4 separate regions of the Homo sapiens genome follow, and regions 2, 3 and 4 are each linked to region 1. The links come from fine-mapping of genetic effects on gene expression. A gene starts in region 1. Each other region holds a variant in brackets. All regions are shown on one strand. Distances are from middle to middle.

Region 1 (5,274 bases):
CTTTGGTTTTAATTGGCAGGAAGGCTAAGGAGATGGCTTGTAGATTGAAGTAGAACAAAAAAGGCACTTTAACTAGTGTCAGATGGGAAATGAGAAAGCCACTTCAGCTGCTTTTGCTAATTTCAACGCTTACATCCAAATAAATGATAGAAGATACTCCATGAAATTATTATAATATGTAATTAGATAAGGAAGTAGGAAAAATAAAGCAAGTTAACTTGACAATCTGGAAGAGATTAATGAGTGTTAAGGAGAGATGAACAAAAAATGATGAGCAGCAATGCAAAGGCCCAGGCTGGTCTTCTGGAGGAGTAATAAAATTAATGTGTAACATGGCCGATGTGGGGGCAGTGAGGGGCCCTGAGGGTGGGGTCTGCATTGGTGTATTATGGGTTGAATTGTGTACCCCTCCCGGATTCTTTTTTTTTATTTTTATTTTTTTTGAGACAGGGTCTTGCTCTGTGGCCCAGGCTGGAGTGCAGTGGTGCAATCTCAGCTCACTGCAACCTCCGCCTCCCGGGTTCAAGCGATTCTCCTGCCTCAGCCTCCCAAGTAGCTGGGATTACAGACACGTGCCACCATGCCCAGCTAATTTATTTATTTTATTTATTTTTTAGTAGAAATAGGGTTTTGCCATGTTGGCCAGGCTGATCTCCAGCTCCTGACTTAAGTGATCTGCCCTCCTGAGCCTCCCAAAGTGTTAGGATTACAGGCGTGAGCCACTGTGCCTGGCCCTGGCTAATTTTTTGTATTTTTAGTTAGAGATGGGGTTTCGTCATGTTGGCCAGGCTGGCCCTATTCATATGTAGAAGTCCTAACCCTTAGTCCCTTAGAATGTGACCTGATTTGGAAATAGGGTCATTGCAGATATAATTAACGTCCATGAGGTCATACTGGAGGATGGTTCGCCCCTAATCCGTTATGACTGCTGTTCTTATTAAAAAGGGAAATTTGAACACACAAGCACACTGGGAGAACAGCCATGTTCAGATTGGAGTTACGCTACCATATGCCAAGAAACTACCAGAAGCTAGGAGAGGCATGGACGAGATCCCTCCCCAGTGCCCTCAGAGGGAGTACAGCCCTGCCTACACCTTGATTTCAAACTTCTGGCCTCCAGAATTGTGAGATAATAATTTGTTGTTTTAAGTCACCCAATTTGTGGTATGTTACGGCAGCCCTAGGGAACTAATGTAGTGCGATTATTTTAAGAGGCAAACAAGAAGAACATCCTAAGAGTGAGGTGCCTGATAGTCTCATGCATCAGAAAAGTCCCATATATTTGACTTCAGCAGTTAAATTGTATTTTCCTGTTTTACCAAACCTTTTTAATTATCGTTTCTTGCTGTAGAAAAATCACATAAAATCTGCTCTTTGCTTAACAAATTACAGGGTCGCTTCTGATTTGTGTGCTCGAAATACTAGTCACCAAGCAGAAACTGATGACTGTGAGAATAGGCGACTAATTAACAAACAAACAAAAAAAGCCCTTTCTCAACATTGGATTGACCGAGTGAAAGTTGACAGGGGAAAGACACCTCGATTCAGCCATCTTTCTCCAACAGGTTGTACTGCTGACTGCACAGTGTCCCCTGAAGGACTCCGGTCGCTGTAGCCTTGGAGAGCGACCAGATTCCTCACCCCACTCAGGAGGAGCCAGGGCAAGATTAGGGTGCAGAGAAATCGGTTTCCTCCAGCCTCCTACCCCAGGGAAGAGGACCGAAGCCAGCCCCGGCCTCACGTGCATGCCCAGTCGGGAGGACGCCCTCAGTGGGAGAGCCCTGCTCAGGTTCTCCCCGAGGCCGAGGTGGTGGTGGGAGCGGGCGGTGGCCCCGGGATCAAAGGACCTCCGCCGGGTTAGCTTTGGCAGTGCCGCAGCCAACCCAGCAGGACGCTTATTTTCAAGCCTGGGGAACGTAGTTCCTCCCGCTTTCACAGCAGGATGGAGCCCGACGGCACCCCGGTTAAAGGGCCTTTCCAGAGCCCTCCGGGGAACGGAAGGCCGCGCTCCTCCGGGAGGGAGAACGACACACTCTTCGAGGAAATCCTGGGGCGGGCGCTCTCCTCGCTGCCGGGACCTTTGTTTCTAAGCTGGCCACAGCTAGAGCAGCCTTAAGTGTCCCAATGACACGCCTGCTATCGAGCGCCCTCCCGGCGGCCCCTCCTCAGCCAGCTGCCCAGCGGGCGTCCTCAGGTGTCCCCAAGAGGCGCAGGCCTAGTCGCCTACACGTCCTTTCCAACTTCGTCAGCTCTGGCTTCCCACCACCCCTCCCGGCTCTGCGGCGGCCCAGCCTCTTCTCCGGTTAATTCCGGCCTGTGCGGCCCGGTCGTCCCGTAAAGAAGGCAAGCCCGGGTTCCGGGTGAGGGGTTGGTGGGTCAGGGTGGGAAAGCAAGGCAGCGGTGAGTCCTCTGCTAGCAGATCGGGCTCAATATCCCCATTCCCTGTTTTCTCCGGGCCCGCCCTCCGCCTCTCAGGCGGCCGCCATGAAGATCCTCTGCCGCGGCTGCAGCCGGTCTGCAAACACACGCCCACCCGCACGCTTAGCCTCGCTCGCCACAGAGGGAGGGGTGGAAAAGGCACTGAGCATGCTCGGTGGGGAGGGCGGGGCGCTCGTGGGCTGCGAGTCGGGGCCGGAGCTCTTCAGGCCGGCTCCCGCGCCTCCGCCGCCCGCCCGCTCGGAGCCGCGCCCGCCGCAGGCTGCGCCCGCCAGTCCCGCCCCGCCCCGCCCCGCCCCGCCCCCCGCCGCTCGTCCCCGCCGCGGCCGCGCCGCCTGCAGCAGCACCAGCTGCTCCTCCCCGGCGGCCGCCCCCCGCGGGTCCCTCCCTGGCTGCGGGAGAGACGGAGGTAGAGGGAGGACACAGAGCCGCGCCGCCCGCACCACAGACCTTCGCCTCGCCCCGCCGGTTCCTCACCCTCGGGGAGCAACATGGGTAAGTCATCCTTCCTCCGCCGTCATCGCCTGACATTTTTTTCTTTCTCGGCGTGCTGCAGGGTGGGAAGCATTTCTCGCGCAAAGTTGCCGGATTTCTCCAGTCCCCGGGTGTGAGACGGTGGCTGTTCCTCCGGGGAGAGTCGGCGCACGCGGAACGCACGCCGGGTGCCGGGGCTGGGAGGGTCCCGAGCGCGGGCTGGGGTGGGGTCGGCCGCGGGCCGGACCGCCGCCCGGCTCCCCGGCACCTCGCAGCCTCGCCTCCCCTCCTCCATTCTTCCTGCCGGTGCCCGGGCACCACGGAGCCTGCCTCGCGGGCTCGCATCTGCAGCTCCATCCCCGTTTCTCCAGAGGCCGCCCGCTTCCTTTTCCCCCGCGTGTACTGAGCTCGAGGCTCGGGTCCGACCACTACCACTTCGTGTAACTTCCTTCTCTGTCAGTGCGACCTTTCCCCGTCGTGGAGACTCCTCATCCCGGGCGGGGAAGTGGAAGCAAGTAGTTTGTGAGGGAGATCTTACAACCTGCACGGAAATTATTTTCCAAGGGGGAGAGCGGACAGCCTCATAGGTTGAAAGGATGACTTGTCAGAGGCCACGAGGAACGTGAGGCAGGATAGAGCCGCTAGCTGTTGAATTAGTGCTGGGTGACTACAGTGTGCAATATTCCCGTGCCCAGCCTATTTTCTGGATTCCTTCGTCCGTCTTCTGTAGCAGGAAACTGCGCCCTGTAACGTTGTTACCGAACTTACATGGTAGTTATTCTTTCCCAGCTTCCTCCTGTCTAATCTGCATAATCTGATTTTAGTTCCTTTGTATTTATAGTTAATCTGAAGAGATTGGTTTGGATGAGAGATTTAAGAGCAAATATGTTTTATAAAACGATATATACATTTGACCTAATTTTTTTACATCATCTATTGCTTAACTGTTACATTCAGTAATCACAGAAACGTCTGATGAATGCTGTCATGTAATTAAGAGCTCAAAGTTTCTTTTAATAGTAGCGACTTGTACTAAGTTCCCCAGTTTGCTTCCACTCCTGTCTGTCATAATTTCCTCTTTTTAAAATTTGCTCCCTTGGCATCTGTCAGCTGGGACTTTTCCCACCCCTTCTGTGCGAGTTATTTAAAGCTTGAGATGAATGTGGTCCTTTCATCTGTTAATACAGTGCTCAACACGTTCAGAGTTAGGTGGTGCAACTCAGAATCTTCAAGAAGTATCTAAACCTGGGAATGGTGTCCATAGAGTTTTCTGGAACAGCAAATGCTTCAGGCTTTGATCCCGACCTTTGGCCATATATCTGGAAGAGGCCAGGGTTGACGGAGGAGGTGGTATGAATCAAAAAAGGTCTAGGGCTCTGAATTTTATTTTCAGTTGTTTTTTCTTTTTAACGTGAGTACTCGATATGCTGAACAAATTTCTGTAAAAATTGGGTGGCCCATTTATGCGTGTCTGCCTTTCTCTTAAAGTAGATTTTTAAATAGGTATTATATCAGATTATTGGACAAGCTGTATATTTCCGTCGAACATACACACGTTTATGTGTGTTCCCTTTGAACATACACAGATAAAATACACTTTGAAATAAAATTCCTTTGAACATACATACACAGATAAGTGTGTGTATGTTCAAAGGAAATATACAGTATGTCCAATAACCCTATCTGATATTGGACTGTAAGTTCAAGTTTGGCTTGCAAAATATATTTTCCCATGTTTCCAGGTGAGCCTTAAACAATCCATTTAACATTTTAGCTTACATGTTAAATCCGTACTTTTTCAGTGGAAAAAATCCAATTCCGTTACAACACTGGTGAATAAAAATACCTAAAAGAAATTATCTACTTAAAAATAATCTTCAAAATCTTGAGTGCTATTGCTTGATTTTTAAAAAGGGCCAAATAGAAACCTATCTCTCATTTTGAAGCCATCTCTGATACTCTTTGGTTAATCTGTCTCTTCATAAGCACTGTTTGTACCTTGTTAGAAGCTTTTTAGCACTTACGTAATCTACCATATAATAAAGTTGTTTATGTGTGTGCTGTGCATTTAATCATGAGTCCCAGAAGATGAAAAGTGTCTTATTATTTTTTGTGTTCCCCACAGTGCTTTTCAAATAGAAATTCAGTAAATCTTTGGCAAATTGTTGAACTTAAAGCCACCTATTATTTTCAACTTTTGAACCTGAAGATATAGTCTTCATCTGAACAAACATTTGGGTTGGTACATATTATCTAGTTGGGGGATAAGCAGAAACAGAAAGGTATAATTGTACCATGCCTCCCAGTACACTGTAGGTTGGTTTTGAGTCAACCTCAGGCAATCTGTTTCCTTCTAAACTCTCT
Region 2 (5,274 bases), 99 kb after region 1:
TTATTAAAGTCTCATGCAAGTCTTTGTATTTACCCTATTTTCTGTGTTATTCAGTTTTAGAATAAAATAGAATTATCAGTCAGTAAGTAGCGTAAAAATAAGATTCTTCAGTTTTCATCAATCTGTTGTATTTTATGAGTTTATTATTAAAGTACATCATGTGTATAAGAATAAACAACAATATGTTACTGCTACTTTTAGAGATAGTAGTTATGACTATTATCACATGAAAGCATTCCACTATAAAGACATTCTAAATATAGATTGAAGTAGATGTTGTTTTGTAACACTATCATAAGCTCTAAACACAAGCATATGCCATTAAAGAGCTTTTTAAATGGTAGAGAAAATAAAATGAACAAAGGAACACAACCTGAGGACAATTACAGAGCACACACTAAATATGTTTTTTTATCAGAATGAAAATTAATAAGAATATTAACTGTAGCTGTTTTTTAAGAAATTAACCAAATAGTGCATTGCTTAGAAAAGAATTTGTTTACAAATTAATATAATTATAAATGTATAAAATTTTAATATAACCCCTAGAAAGTTGGTATTGCAAATGAATGTGATTTCCAGCTCCACCATTCACTAAGTTGTCATTTAATTTTTCTGATTTTAATTTCCTCCTTGGTAAAGTAAGCTTGTGTGGATTAAGTATGTTTATATAAAAAGTGTGTGTGACTCAGTGTAATACATACAATAACATACAAAAGGTATTTCCATAAAGATATAAAAGCCAGAAGCCATATAAAGAGAGGCAAAGATAAATCTGGTGGGAAGCAGGGATAATGTGCTTAACTGTGTATAAGCACTGATTTCACTTGAGCTTCTTGGCAGCCTATGTGAAAAAACAACTTGATATGCCTTGTAATTTTTATTTTATGATAAAAAGGAATATTTTAGTTCTTTAATCAAACAACTTTTGAGACAAAATAGTAGGAGGGACTTATCAGGATGTCATTAATTCCCTAGATGATTCTGTGCACATACCTAGTTACAATATGTAAGGATATTTACTGGCATTATAGTGTACCTAGTGACGGTTCTACAAAAGTTGCCCAGATGTTTTCCATGTGATTGTTTCTTGTACTAATCTTCAACAGAATCTGGGAAATAATACTGAGGACTTTACAGAAGGTAGTTTTATTTGGGTAGTATATCCCGAGTGTGTTGTTTTTTGGTGGTTAAACTTGCTTAAAGGATTCAGTTTAAAAATTTGAAAAAGTTTTGACTTGAATATATTTCCTAGTTTAGTTTAAAACCAGAATACAATTCTGGTTTCCATTCATTGTACTTTATCCTTTTCTCTGTGTTGTGTGATATATCCAAGTTCTATTTCTTGAGACCAAAAACCATGTTTATCTCTGATTTTTGAGCCCATTATCAGTTTGATGGAAACCTGACTAGCATGAAAGTGAGTATTTTAAAATACCACTTTAGTTGTGGTACACAAATCTGTACATATGTTAGAATTGCTTAGAACCATACATGCCCATACACATACACTAATGCATGTAAAAACTGATGAAATATGAATAAGGTCTGACATTGTACCAATGTCAGTGTCCTGGTTATGCTATTGTGTAGTAGAGTTATGCAATGTTACCATTGGAGGAGGCTGGATAAAGGGTACATGAGACCTTTCTGTGCTTTTTTTTTTTAAATAACTTCTTGTGAGCCTCTAATTACTTCTAAATAAAAAGTTTTAAAACCTCACCTATCCAGAAAGCATATATATTCTCTTCCCTATGGGAAATGACCTTGTTGTTTCAGCAGTACCTGAGGTGGGAGGTGGGGGCAGCAGGCATACACATAAAATTTTACAGCATAGCTCACAGCAGTAATTTTAATGAGTTTGTGCAATTAATGTGAAAGACAAAAATGCCTGTAATTTTTTCTCCCTCCAAATTGGACTTTTATGGAAAAAAATCAACAAAAACCTAACAGCCCTAAAATAAGATTTACGGAGTGGGAATTCGTATTTGTTGGGTTAGGACCTAGGGACAAAAGCAGAGTAAATTTCCTAGAAAGGGAATAACTGATAGGGAAATATTATAGACCAAAAAAAGTGAAATTATGAACTCAAGTAAACAGGTTGATATTAAAATGAGAAAGGACATTTCTGCCATAGAGAATAAAAGACAGAAGATAAATGAAAGTATAAAAAAACCTTTAAGTAGTAAAGAGGGCACTCAAAAGTGTATTTCTGGGTATAGTTCTGTCTTCCCAGTAAGGTAGATGTCAGGCTCATCTGTTAATAAAAGTCAACACCAAAATGATGGTAGGAAGTTTGTGGTTTTGGGGGAAAGTTCAAAATTGGGGCTGTAGGACATGTAAATCATGAAGATACGATTTTTTAAAATAGCCAAATAGTAATATAGGTATGCTATGGTAGAGATCTTGATTGTGCATCCATTAATGTATAGTGTGCTTAAAATGTCTATAGGCTAAGGAATTATTTTGACTTTGATATGTGGACAGGAAGGAGCCTCTGAAAGTAACTTGAAGAAATTGATATTTTCAGTTTTGTAGCATCATATAGTCTAATTGGAATGGACAGAGATGTGAGGCAGAGATATCAGGAAGCCATTACAGGAGGCCGGGTGTGGTGTGGTAAATAGTGACTGCGGCAGAGAGAAC[G/A]AAATTATATTGTAAAGTGAGAGACAGTACTCAGATAGTTTATTATCAGTTTGGCTGGTTTTTGCGTAGCACTGCACCAGGTTTATTTAAGCAATGTAAAGTACTCTATCTCTTCAGATAGTTTACACTTTGAGAAACTATGATCTTTCCATTTTTGTACTTGGTATTAAATTTAAATCCCTCTTTTATTAAATGGTGTTTGGAAATCCAAGATTCTATAAAGTTTACCTTAAAATTGTAGGACAAAGAACACATATTACTGCTTTTTTCCCCATGCTTGATTACTTTCCAAATACTATGTTATAAAAAGCTAATGTCTTAGGGAAGACATGAAATAGTAATTTCGAGTAATTGTTCTTAATTTTATAGATACGAAAGTAGAGGCAACCTGTGAGAGAGTATTGCACGTGGCAAAAATATTAGATGATTTTTCTTGGGTTCAATAAGAAGTCATATATGGTTGCCTTCCCCCCCAACCCCACCCCCATTCTCTGAGTCAGAAGTCTGAATGGCTTTAGAACTTTCCTTTCCTCATTAAGAGGACTTAGGTAGGGTGGGAAAAGTCTAATTATAGAGGCCTACTTGGGGGTTTAAAAACATTTTTTGTCTAAATCTGTTTTTTCCCCTTACCTTTACCACTCTCATTTCACCTGTTAAAGTCAAAGTTTAGATATGTGAAACATAAGATTTCCAGTCTGCTTATTGAAACCCTGTCAACACATATTATCCTCTGCTCTTTTTAATAGGGTTTTGTTTACATTTTTAAAATTTTCTTATTTGTAACCAAGTTGAAGTACTGAGAACTTTCTCAACTTTTAATCAGCCTTTTCCTTGCTACAAGTAGGGTGCATTTTCCTTGGCGGTGAGGAAATATGAAAAATAAATGCTACGTAAAAGTGAATAATTCAGGGCCAGGCATAGTGGCTCACGCTTGTAATCCCATCATTTTGGGAGGGCGAGGCAGGTGGATCACTTGAGGTCAGGAGTTCAAGAGCAGTCTGGTCAACATGGTGAAACCCCATCTCTACTTTTTAAAAAGAAAACAAAACAAAACAAAACTAGCCAGGCATGGTGGCATATACCTGTAATTCCAGCTTTGGGAGGCTGGGGCATGAGAATTGCTTGAACCCAGGAGGCAGTGATTTAAGATCACAGCACTGTACTCCAGCCTAGGTGACGGAGTGAGACTCTGTCTCAAAAAAAAAAAAAAAAAGAGTGAATAATTTACATTTTTCCTGCTGAGTAAAATGTTTTTACCCGTTGAGAAACTATGCTGTCATCAGTTCAGATTAAATTCTAAATAACTATATATGCATTTGCTCTCACACACACACATATATATATACATATATATATAGTCTAGCATAATTTAAGTATGAAATAGTTTGGTACAAAAACACCTTTTATATTTAAAATATTTATAAAACGTTTTGATCTTGAACAATTGGAGTAATAAATTGGAACAATAAATTACATACATTATTATCTAAATGCTATGTAAAAGTAACTTTTATGGAAATAATTGAGTTAAATGACTTTATAATTTGTGTATAAAGATATTCAGTCTTTTGCTAATAAAATGATACAGAAATATAAAAATATAGGGAGTAAAGAAAGCTTTAGTAATTTCTTTAGGAAATGTATTGCCATTTATGGAGCCTTTATTAGATAAAGGGTTTTTGAAAAAGTAGAATTATTGAACAATTTTAACTAATGTGAGAAATCTGTTGGACAACAGAAATTAATACTAGTATCAGCAGGCACACCAAAAACTGTGTCCATCAAATGCTGGGCCATAACCTCATTTTATGCTGTGCCCTTGGTACTAGTGCTTTGGGAAATGAAAGATTTAATTCATTTACTTTTCCTGATCTGGCATTACAAGTGTAAATGTATATACACCTTGAAATTTTCCCACCTAAATGCAGATTTTTAAACCTGAATATAATGTCACAAAATTGCAAATTGCATGCTTCTCTTTTGATATGTGTGCACTTAACAGTCATGGTGGCTTTTTCTTCATGACTCATTTTTGTGATTTTACTTATGTAATATGTTATAGCTTTTGCTTTTATATCTAGTCTTTCAGGGATTTTGCCTGAATCTGGAAGGTGAATAAATTGCGTTTTGAGTTTTAGAAACGATATTCATGAGCTTTTTTATTTGAATGCTGAAAACATTCGATTATGTCTAAGGTACATAATAGAAATTCACTGTTGGCAAAATTATAGGGGGAAATGTAAGCATTAGAATTTAATTTTCTTTCCTAGTAGACTTCATAAATACATTTTAACTTTATCTTGAAAAACAATGTAGGGTCTGCATGTGGTGGCTCACAGCTGTGATCCTAACATTTTCAGAGGCTAAGGTGAGAGGATCACTTGAGCCCAGGAGTGCAAGATTAGCCTGGGCGTCATAGCAAGATCGCATCTCTACAAAAAATAAATTTAGCTGTGCATGATGGAGCACTTCTGTAGTCCTGCTACTCAGGAGGCTGAGGTAGGATGACACGAGCCTGGGAGTTCAAGGCTGCAGGGAGACATGATTGTGCTACCACACTCCAGCCTGGGTGACAGAGCAAGACCTTGTCTGAAAACAGACAACAACTAACACAATGTAGGTATGTCT
Region 3 (5,274 bases), 940 kb before region 1:
TCATCAAGCAGGATGGGAGAAGACAGCCAAAGAAAGGAAAGTAATACCCAACTGAAGGAGGATAGAGAGGAATTATTTGAAATACAGATTCTTTCAGCAAAGGCTCCTTCTTCAAAGCTTTTTGGAAAAAAATGTAATGCAAAAAAAAAATAAAAGTATGAAGTATAAGGATAAGTAAAAAAATTTAAAAGCATATTTTGAAATACATACGTGATCATAGGAGTTCATTGTGGACTGTGAATGGGTCCATATTTAGTGGCATCTGCCTTTAACTAGGAATAAGGCCAAAATCAGTCACAGAGTTGGTCTGCTCCATTTGTCTCGGAGATCACTAGATATATTTCTAGCACTTCTTTTTCTCCTAAGAGTGTAGCATTTATAGTATCTATTCAAAGAGAACTCACAAGTACAGCATTTCATGAGCTCTTGATAAGCTGTCTGAATCATGACCATTGTGCCACGGATTTCCTCAAGCCCTTTTCTTTATTAAGGTTCATGAACAGACTGTGAATTCCTGATTTGCCTTTGTTGTGTCTCCTCTGTCCAGTTTCTACAGGGTCCTATTTGAGACTAGTTTGCTTAGAGCTCATAATGAGCTCTCTAATGTTGATTCATTTTGGGGTCTCATATTCTTCAGTATTCTTATATCTTTTTCTGAGCATTCAGAATAAAGAGAGCTAGTATTAATGGAAAACACACTATGTGTAGTAACATCATTTTCTCACTTTAACCTTCCAGTACTTGTGAGATAGAGAGATACTTTTAATTAGTTAATCCTTTCCTGGCTTCAACTCCTACTAGTCTAGACTTGGTATTCTATCACTTAAACTACTCTCCCAACCATCACTTTGACACCCCTGTGCAAATATTCTTTGACAAAAATATCTAGGTGAAATCCAAACTTCAGAATAATGTAATCATCTGCTTTATCTATTATTTCACTCTATAGCTTATCCCATGCTATGATTTGAATACTTGTCCCCTACAAAACTCATGTTGAAATTTAATCCCCATTGTGGCAGTATTGAGACGAAGGACCTTTAAGAAGTGATAGGGTCATGAGGGCTCTGCCCTCATAAATAGATTAATCTTTTTTATAGATTAATGGATAAAGGATTAAAAGATTAATGGGTTGCCATGAGGGTGGAACTGGTGGCTTTCTAAGAAGAGGACAAGAAACATGAACTAGCAAGCTCAGCCCCCTTACCATGCGATGCCCTGTGCTGCCTTGGAACCCTACAAGGAGCCCCACCAGCAAGAAGGCCCTCACCAAATGTGGGCTTTGACCTTGGATTTCTCAACCTCCATAACTGTAAGAAATAAATTCCTTTTCTTTATAAATTATCCAGTTTCAGTTATTCTTTTAAAAGCAACAGAAAACAGACTAATAAATCCCACATATAGTCTGTTCAAACAATGCCTCTTCAAATTTGCCAAAGATATGCTTCTCTCTTCAACATAGAAACATTCTAGGCTGGGCGCAGTGGCTCACACCTATAATCCCAGCACTTTGGGAGGCCGAGAAAGGCAGATCACCTGAGGTCAGGAGTTCGAGACCAGCCTGACCAACATGGAGAAACCCTGTCTCTACTAAAAATACAAGATTAGCTGGGCTTGGTTGTGCATGCCTGTAATCCCAGCTACTCAGGAGGCTGAGGCAGGAGAATCACTTGAACCCAGGAGGCGGAGGTTGCAGTGAGCCGAGATCATGCCATTGCACTCCACCCTGGGGAACGCGAGTGAAACGCCATCTCAAAATAATAATAATAATAAAGAAATAAAAATAAAATAAAACATTCTACAGTCTCTGCCATTTTTAATGAATCTTCTTTGATCTCCTCTAGCCATCATCCAGTCTCTTCTTTCCTTAAAAGCCTATATTTCAGAAAGAGTGCTATACACTCTGTCTCCAGAGCCATTTAATTAGCCCACTGAAATCTGATTTCTCTACTTCACTTTCAAAGTTACTATAGCTAACATCATCTATTATTTCCCAGTTGCTAAATCCAAAGGAGAGTTTTTATTCCTTACCTCGATTGGCCTCCCTATAACTGTAAAAATATCTCTTCTCCTTTGGTTTCCAAGATTCACTCTCTCCTTGCTTTCCCATCTATCTTAGTTTCCTCTTCTAGGATGTTCTTTCTGCCCTCATAGCTTGAATTCTGATGTTTCCTCAAATCAATCCTTGACTTTTTTCTCTCCTTATGCTAACCACTTCTTGAGATCTCCTATTTCACCTAATGGCATCCATATCTATGATTGAAGTGTGGCCTCTTTTTTGAGCTCCAGACATAGGTTTTAAACTTGAATTACAGGCCCAGGAAATCTCTTTGTAGATAACACATAGTCCCCCTTTACTCTCCCCTCTACATACGAATATGTTCATTCTTTATTATTCACGCACACACATTATTATCCATAGACGAGCTAGGCCAGATTATAAAGTCTCGTAATAGCTGAAAGATTAGAGGTGGTAACGATTTGACCTTGGCACAAGTGTACTTTTCTCTGGTCTATTCATGAAGAGACAATAGGAAGTACAAAGGATAAAAGTGGTGAACATGACGGTCTATTTCTTCCCTTCTTTCATGAGAAGGAGTGCTGAAAATTTGGTGTTCTTGACCACCCATAGAGAGGAACAAGTATGCCAAGTCAGAGAATAACAGGACTATGGGCCCAAACTCCTGGCCTCAAGTGATCCTCTTGCCTCAACCTCCTGAGTAACTGGG[A/T]TTATAGGAAGAACACACCATGCCTGGCTCAAACTATGGAATCACTAGCTCTTTATCTGTTGCTACCTTATCACTCTGAAACAATAGACCATATAAGGCTACTGTGTTACCTGGGCCTCGAGGCCTTGACATTCTTTTTTGTTTGTTTGTTTGTTTTTTTGAGACAGAGTCTCACTCTGTCGCCCAGACTGGAGTGCAGTGGCATGATCTCGGCTCACTGCAAGCTCTGCCTCCCGGGTTCATGCCATTCTCCTGCCTCAGCCTCCTGAGTAGCTGGGACTACAGGTGCCCGCCACCACGCCCGGCTAATTTTTTTGTTGTATTTTTAGTAGAGACGGGGTTTCACTGTGTTAGCCAGGATGGTCTCGATCTCCTGACCTCGTGATCCGCCTGCCTCGGCCTCCCAAAGTGCTGGGATTACAGGCTTGAGCCACCGCTTCCGGCCGAGGCCTTGACATTCTTACTGTGCCAGCACTTGAGCAATCCTTCTTGATCTATACTTCTGCTACCAAGCCCTATGAGTTTTCTATTCATGTCCTTTTAGGAGCTATTTGTGGGCAATCCTAATGATGTCCCACCACAATACAGCAGTTACCCAAGTCAGAAAATTTGAAATAGTCCTTGCTTTTATACTCTTTTCCACCTCCTATACCAAACAAATTATTACCTTCCACCACTTCTTCCCATTAAATACCTTTTACTTACCCACTCCTCTCTGTTTCCAGTGTTATTTCCACTATCATCTCTCAGATGAAATATTGCAAAAGTCTCCAGTGTGGCCTCTAACCTCAAACTCTGTGCTCTCTCCAGTTCATTCTGCATTCTACTGTCAGCAGGAACATCCTAAAACATAAATATGATGCTGCCTCACTCCCTTTCAAAAATTATTTAATGACTCCTCAGCACCTTCAGGATAAACTCCAAGTTTATCCAACATAAGCTGGGGCCTACTGAGTTTTGATATCTCATTTACCATTTCTTCTCCTTCTTCAGAAGATTTCTAATTCCTCAAGCATGCATTATGTCCTTAAGCCCCCATGCCTTCTAAAATGTGTAGAATGCTGTCTTCCTATCTTCTCCATGATGTTTATGATATTTACTAGTCTGCCAAAACTCTATTCGGGTCTACCCACATACTCTCTCTGCAAATCTTATAACTGCCATTTTCAGAGCACATTCAGACTCCAATCATTTCTTTACCACCTCTTCTCCTATCACCTGAGTTCAAGTCACCATGACTTTTCAAATAGATTACTACAATATTCATCAAATTAGTCTGTTGACTTTTACCCTTGCTTACCCCATGGTATTTTTCCTCCCATAGTAGCCAGAAAGAGTCTTGAAATCCTACGTCAGATCATATTACTTCCCTGTTTATAACCCATCAATGGACTCAGAGGCAAAGCCAAATTCTTATAATGACCTACACAGCACATATTATCTGGTCTCCAATTACCTCTCTGGTCTCATGTCACATGTTTCACATGCTCTCTCACATTATTTAAGCAACACTGGCACCTGCTATTCCAACAACACATTTCTATCTTAGGATGTATTCCCTCTGTCCATAACTCCACCTCCAGATTACATACACACAACACATATGTACATATCTGATGTATAGATATGTATATATACATTCCTAGAATACTGTCATGGACATAAAATTTCTTCTGTAGCCTATTAGCATCTCTAGCTGGGCCTAAGAATTAAACTAACATATGACAGATTATCAGGAGAAAAGCATACACATTTTATTTAGTAAGTTTTCTATGTGCATGGGAGCCTTCAGAAGGAAAATGAAGACCTAAAGAAGCATTTAGAGCTGAAAGCTTGTATACTAGATTGGACAAAGAGCAGTAAATTGTGAAAATATGGCAAGACAAGGGGCTTGGGCTCGGCCAGTTAACTGTGGAAAAATGACTAGGAAGATAAGAGTTAGTTTGACAAGGTTAGTTTGTACAGATTTCTCTCAGCCTTGCCTCCTCATCTCTGGTGACAAGAATGTCTTCCTTCCTTCCCATGTGAAGAGCATCCTTTACATGGAAGTTTAATCTCCTGCTTTTAGGAATAAAAAGCAGGTCAAGGTGCCCTTGTTGCATCTGCTGTTTTTCAAGTGCCTTTAACTCAAAATAATCAATATGCCAAGATGTCATATTTTGGGGTGGCCTGTTTTCAACCCCTTACAATATATATAACTATACAACCACATGTACACAAAGATATAGACACACAGATATACTGATATGGGTAATTGTCTCATTCCAGTCAAATGCCACTATATGAAAGATATCTCACCTGACAACCCCAACTAAAAGAGCAATGTCTCATCAATATTCTCCATCTTCTTAGCCTACTTTGTTTTTTTCTCAGAGCATCACACAGTCTGTTCTTTATTTTACTGTTTCTGTTTGATTACAATAGAATGTAATCTCCATAAAAATAGATCTTGACTGTTGTATTCATTGGTGTATCCCTGAAACAGGATAATGAATAAATGAATGAACAGATAAATGAATAAATGGAGAGATTAATCAATTATCTC
Region 4 (5,274 bases), 190 kb after region 1:
GAGAGGGGAGGGAAGGAGTGGAGGGCCTCTTCTTCCACAAGAGTCATCATTAAACACTCTTCATGCTCTTCATGATTCTATCACCTGGCCAATCTGTTTCTTCCTCTATAGACTAGGGATGGCAAACAAACTAGGGGCCCTCACACATGTTGTTTGGGCCACATGGTTGTTGTTTTTTGTTTTGTTTTGTTTTGAGATGGAGTCTTGTTCTGTCACCCAGGCTGGAGTGCAGTGGTGCCATCTCAGCTTGCTGCAAGCTCTGCTTCCCGGGTTCACGCCATTCTCCTGCCTCAGCCTCCTGAGTAGCTGGGACTACAGGTGCCCGCCACCACGCCCAGCTAATTTTTTGTATTTTTAGTAGAGACATGGTTTCACCGTGTTAGCCAGGATGGTCTCAATCTCCTGACCTTGTGATCCGCCCGCCTCAGCCTCCCAAAGTGCTGGGATTACAGGCGTGAGTCACCGCGTCCGGCCTGGTATTTTTTAAAAAAAAAAAAAAGGAAGAAGAAAAGGAGAAAAAATGAATAGCTTTAAACATTTAAAATGTAAGTGATTTTGCATAAAAATCCATTTCTCTGGCTTTTCTTTTAAAATGAGGAGATCTGGAAACCAGGGACTCTACATTTCAGGAGAAGAGCATGTGGGTGGGGCCCCCTTTGGACAGGATATGTCTCTCTACTGGATTAGATCCCCACCTGGCCATTCACCTAAACTGCATAGCCCCTGGAAGCCTATGCATCTGTGACCCTGTGGATGGAGGCTGTCTGCTTCCAGAGCAGGAGAAAGGGAAATGGATTTTTAGGGACAGAGAACAGCACTATGGGAAAGGCCATGTTTAAGGAAGATCCAAATATTTGACCCAAGGTCATTTATATGACCTGTGCAAACTTGCACTGCCTTTAGTCCCCCAGAGAAGACTTGCCATCCTGAGAGTCAGTGACAGCTGCAGTCTGACAAGTGGCAGGAACATGAAAACAGCTGCAAGCCATGCCCAAGCCTGCACTCACCACATCCTGCTGATAGGAGGGAGCTGGTGCTGGCCCTCCTGTTCCCTCTCCTCTCACAGGGCTGGCAGCAGCTTGTGGGACTGCAGGGATTTAGAAAGTCCCTTAGCTGGATCAGGAATATAGCCCTTCTCCTCAGGCCAAAGACATCTTCATCATCATCTTTATCCCATGAGTCAGGGGATCTTATATAATATGGAAGCCTGCTCACCCAGGCTTATTGCGCTCTGCTTTTGGAGGCCTCCCTTTGGAGAATTCCTAACACAGACTCTACCTGCCAACCTCCCAGGCTAACCTGATCAACCACAATTTCCTCTTTATAGCCAACCCCACAGAAATGAGCCTCCTCATTTTAAAGGACTCATATAATTAGAAGTTCTGCTCCATTCCAGCCAAGATTCCAGTGAAAAGAAACATTCTGCTCCTAAATGTTTCAACGACAGCATGTACCGAAGAACAGCATGTTCCCTATATACCCCAGAGTGAGTAAGCCCCAGTGGGCTCAAAGAAAGACCAGATAATTCTCCTTGCCTTAAGCTAACAAGGGTTACATAGACCGGGAGCTAGAGCATGGCAATGGCAGAGGAATAGTTGCCAAACCTTGCGTTTGCTCTGGATGGCCAACCCATAGCCAAAAACATGCCAGAACTCTTACATCCCTACCATATTTGAAAAAAGAATATAGTATCAATAAGTGTTCAAAAAATGTCTTTGTGGCAAATATGAATTATTTCTTCAATATCCAGCTCTCCTTATTAACAGAACCCCGATTTTGTTCAGAGACTAGTACGTCAAGCTTCAAATAGTCCCATTTTCCAGCTTTCCAAGCTAGTGCTACAGTTCCATAGAAATCCCCAGATATGGCATCCTTTAGTAAATAGAAAGGAAAAGACCTGCTGGGCAAATGCTGTTTTGTCCCTTCACCTTTTCCTTTTTTTCCCCTCCTTCTTGCCTCAAATATGCAGCCCTTCAGCAACGATTAGGTAGAAACCTGAGGATGAAGGCCTGTACCTTAAGGACAGTGGAACAGAAAGGTACAAAGAGCCTGGGTCCACAGGAGCATCAATAAGCTGGAGTAGCGGCCCTATGCTGAGAACCCTCATGCTGATGGCAGGAGACACACACCTGACGTTGAAATCCCTCAGGCAGGGTTTTCCATTATTTCAAATGGAATGAAATCTTGATTCATGAAGCTAGTCGTTAATGTATCAAAATCTCCCCTAGGACAATTTGTTCTGCTTAAAGGCCATGGCCACAGACCTCATGACAACAGAATCCAAAGGATTTAAACAACTGGGGCTACCAGTTTTAACCCTCAAAGTTCAAAAATACACCAAAAAGCCTGACTCTCTAACTCAACAGCCTTCCTCACTACCCAAAGATTTACTAAACACTTACTATGTCAGGCACTGTGTTGGAAGAAGATAAACATGAACCTGATTATTGAGCAAACAAGTAAGGGCTTTAACCAAGGCATGAACAGAGTTATGGGGTTCTGTAGAGGTGACTCTGGGTGCTCTGGGCATCTTGGGGCAGAGGGTACATAGGAAGGAAGGGTGGGAGCAAAAGAAAAGGCTAGGAAAATAGAGCAGAAGAGATGGCAGGAGCAGGGAGTAGACATTAGCCATTTTAACTTTGTATTATATAACGGAAAAACCAAGGTTTCTACATAAAAGATGGGTATATTTGCTTTATGTTTTGTTCTAGAATCAGAATTATTGCTAATGGGGGTGGGGCAGGCTAGCAGAAAGGAAATTAATAGGTAATTGTGATGAATTCCTGATGTTGAGAGACAATTCTCGATGGGTATCTTGTATTTCCATACCTCTGTGAAAGACAGCTTCAGCTTTTTCTTTTTAACTACCTTTTCAAGGATCTTTATATGCCAAATAGCCTTGTAAGATAGAGACAGTGTCTCCCTGGGACAGGCAGATTTATTTTTACTGTACAGAAATCAAGATAAGGTCTCCCTCGGGGGCAAAGTTTGGTCAGGATCACTTGCAGGCCCCTTTATGAGACTGGGGTTTCCTAAACTCAGTTCCTTCGCTGGGGCATAAACCTGCTGTGTGTGAAGTATCCATCTGGGCCACTGTTCCCTGTC[G/A]GACTTGGGAAGCAAGAGAAACTACTGCAAACATGAGATTCATTTTACCAGGGGTGCATGCATAATAAAGTCCTTTCAGTCTGACCCAGGAGTCTCAGGCCTTCTCTCAGCATCTATGTACCTGTGGCAGGCTAACTTGTTAGCTTGCAAGGAGGGTAAAATCTCAAACACTTCACAATTGTTGATGCCTAAACTAGGATTTTTAGAGAGGAAGGGTCTGGGATACTTTTATGGAGCTAGAGATTGGAAAAGAAGATCATTCTGAAGTATCTGAGTTGGGTGACTGGGCAGAAGATGGTGGTGATGTTAACTAAAAGGAGGAACACAGAAAGGAAAGTGGGTTCCTGTAAAATGAGTTGGCTTTGACACATTTGGTTGGAGATGCCTAGAGGATCTTGAGGAGGAGATAGGCAAGTGGACACGTTCTTATTCCAGCTGAGCCATGAGTACAGGGGTTGCTCCATAAACAAACTGAGCCCCGCAGGCCTCAGTGCTCCCTTTGGCACTTCCTAAACTCACACATCATTGTGTTGCCTCAGGGTCCCCAGGAAACACCAACAATAGATCCATTTTTTTAAAAAGTTTGCTTAAATTAGTCAGACATGGTGGTGTGTGCCTGTAGTCGCAGCTATATGAAAGGTTGAGGTGGGAGGATTGTTTGAGCCTGAAAGGCAGAGGTTGCAGTGAGCCGTGGTCATGCCACTGTACTCCAGACTGGGTGACAGAGCAAGACCCTGTCTAAAAAAAAAAAAAAGTGTGCTTTTCCCAACACTTAGGGAATCAAATCCCTGGAACTGGGGCCTGGGTATCTGAATTTTTTTAAAGCTCCAAAGGTGATTCTGATCTGCAGCCAGAGTAGAAAAACGCCAGCTAGAACCAAGGGCAATGAAATGATACTTTGCTTAAAGTCCTCAGAGTGTGGCCTGGCCAACAAGAGTCCTCACCTTGTTTGGTCAAGTAGGTAGCCATTTCCTGAATTGATACCCCAGGATTTTTGTTCAACGTCCATCCTTTTTGAGGCCACTGAGTTCTGACTCAGAGACTAATAATCACTTGCCAAGTAAAGCACCATACTTAAAGAGATCAGATATCCTGAGCCACCCAGCTCCCAGATGTTGCTGTAAAGGAGACATTATATCCCAGGATGGTTCAGAGATTTTTCTGCTCCCCTAAACTTTCTGGAATCCTGCCTGACACATCCTCTGGATTAATCATCAGGATACCCTCATGCCCAGCATATGGGGCATAGCCCCGGACACAACCATCCCCTACCCCCATCATCCTTATGAAAAGCATGTTCTCTCAGACATCCAAAGTCTTTTGCTGATAGTCTGAGACTTTGAGCTCTTAGAGAAGGCAGAGGGGATGGTCGTGTGCTTGGTTAGCTCATAGCCTTTCTCCTTAGCTTTCCAAGTGCCCATGTGTACCTCATAGCCCTTCCATGTGCTGGCATGACTTCCTCCTATCTTGAAAAGGCTTTTCTCTCCATATGATCATGTCACCAGCAAACAGCAACAGTGTGGCTTCCTCTTTACCAATTTGGATGCCCTTTATTTCTTTCTCTTGCCTAATTGCTCTGGCTAGGATTTCTAGCACTATGTTGAATAGAAGTACTGGAAGTAGGCATCCTTGTCTTGTCCCAGTTCTCAGGGGGAATGCTTTCAACTTCTTCCCATTCAGTATAATGTTGACTGTGGGTTTGTCAGGATGGCTTTTATTACCTTAAGGTATTTCCCTTCTATGCCAATTTTGCTGAGGGTTTTAATCATAAAGGATGCTGGATTTTGTCAAATGCTTCTTCTGCATCTATTGAGATGATCATGTGATTTTTGTTTTTAATTCTGTTTATGTGGTGTATCACACTTTTTGACTTGCATATGTTAAGTATGCAGGGATGCAGAATACATCCCTGGTATGAAAACCACTTGATCATGTTGGATTATCTTTCTGATATGCTGTTGAATTTGGTTAGCTAGTATTTTCTTGAGGATTTTTACATCTACGTTTATCAGGGATATTGGTCTGTAGTTTCCTTTTTTGTTATGTCCTTTCCTGGTTTTGGTATTGGGGTGATACTGGCTTCACAGAATGACCTAGGGAGGATTCCCTCTTTCTCTGTGTTTTGGAATAGTGTCAATAGTATTGGTACCAAATCTTTGAATGTCTAAT

Alleles and levels. Positions count from the first base shown, and alleles are read on the strand shown. Sizes are in standard deviations (SD) of each study's normalised expression. Not every link is listed here.
With allele A in place of G in region 2, the expression in spinal cord of the gene that starts at base 2,746 in region 1 is lower (large effect, 1.4 SD a copy in GTEx).

Evidence for each region. PIP is the estimated chance that this variant, and not a neighbour inherited with it, causes the effect.
Region 2: its variant is fine-mapped to the expression of RAP1GDS1 in spinal cord (GTEx, PIP above 0.99).
Region 3: its variant is fine-mapped to the expression of RAP1GDS1 in whole blood (INTERVAL, PIP 0.99).
Region 4: its variant is fine-mapped to the expression of RAP1GDS1 in CD4 T cells (CEDAR, PIP 0.95).

Annotation. Positions count from the first base shown.
Region 1 is chr4:98,258,639-98,263,912 of GRCh38, forward strand. It overlaps RAP1GDS1 (Rap1 GTPase-GDP dissociation stimulator 1), which reads left to right and starts at 2,746. Exons shown (of 15, transcript NM_001100427.2): 1 at 2,746-2,931. The coding sequence starts at 2,928. RefSeq lists enhancers at 1,987-2,286, 2,038-2,600 and silencers at 2,567-2,866, 2,967-3,036.
Region 2 is chr4:98,357,235-98,362,508 of GRCh38, forward strand. The region is part of intron 4 of RAP1GDS1 (Rap1 GTPase-GDP dissociation stimulator 1); the gene reads left to right. Among named protein-coding and RNA genes, the nearest start is that of RAP1GDS1, 98 kb to the left of the region's middle. The variant G/A (reference allele first, on the strand shown) is at 2,647.
Region 3 is chr4:97,318,083-97,323,356 of GRCh38, forward strand. No RefSeq gene overlaps it. Among named protein-coding and RNA genes, the nearest start is that of STPG2-AS1, 46 kb to the right of the region's middle. The variant A/T (reference allele first, on the strand shown) is at 2,730.
Region 4 is chr4:98,448,128-98,453,401 of GRCh38, forward strand. No RefSeq gene overlaps it. Among named protein-coding and RNA genes, the nearest start is that of RAP1GDS1, 190 kb to the left of the region's middle. The variant G/A (reference allele first, on the strand shown) is at 3,106.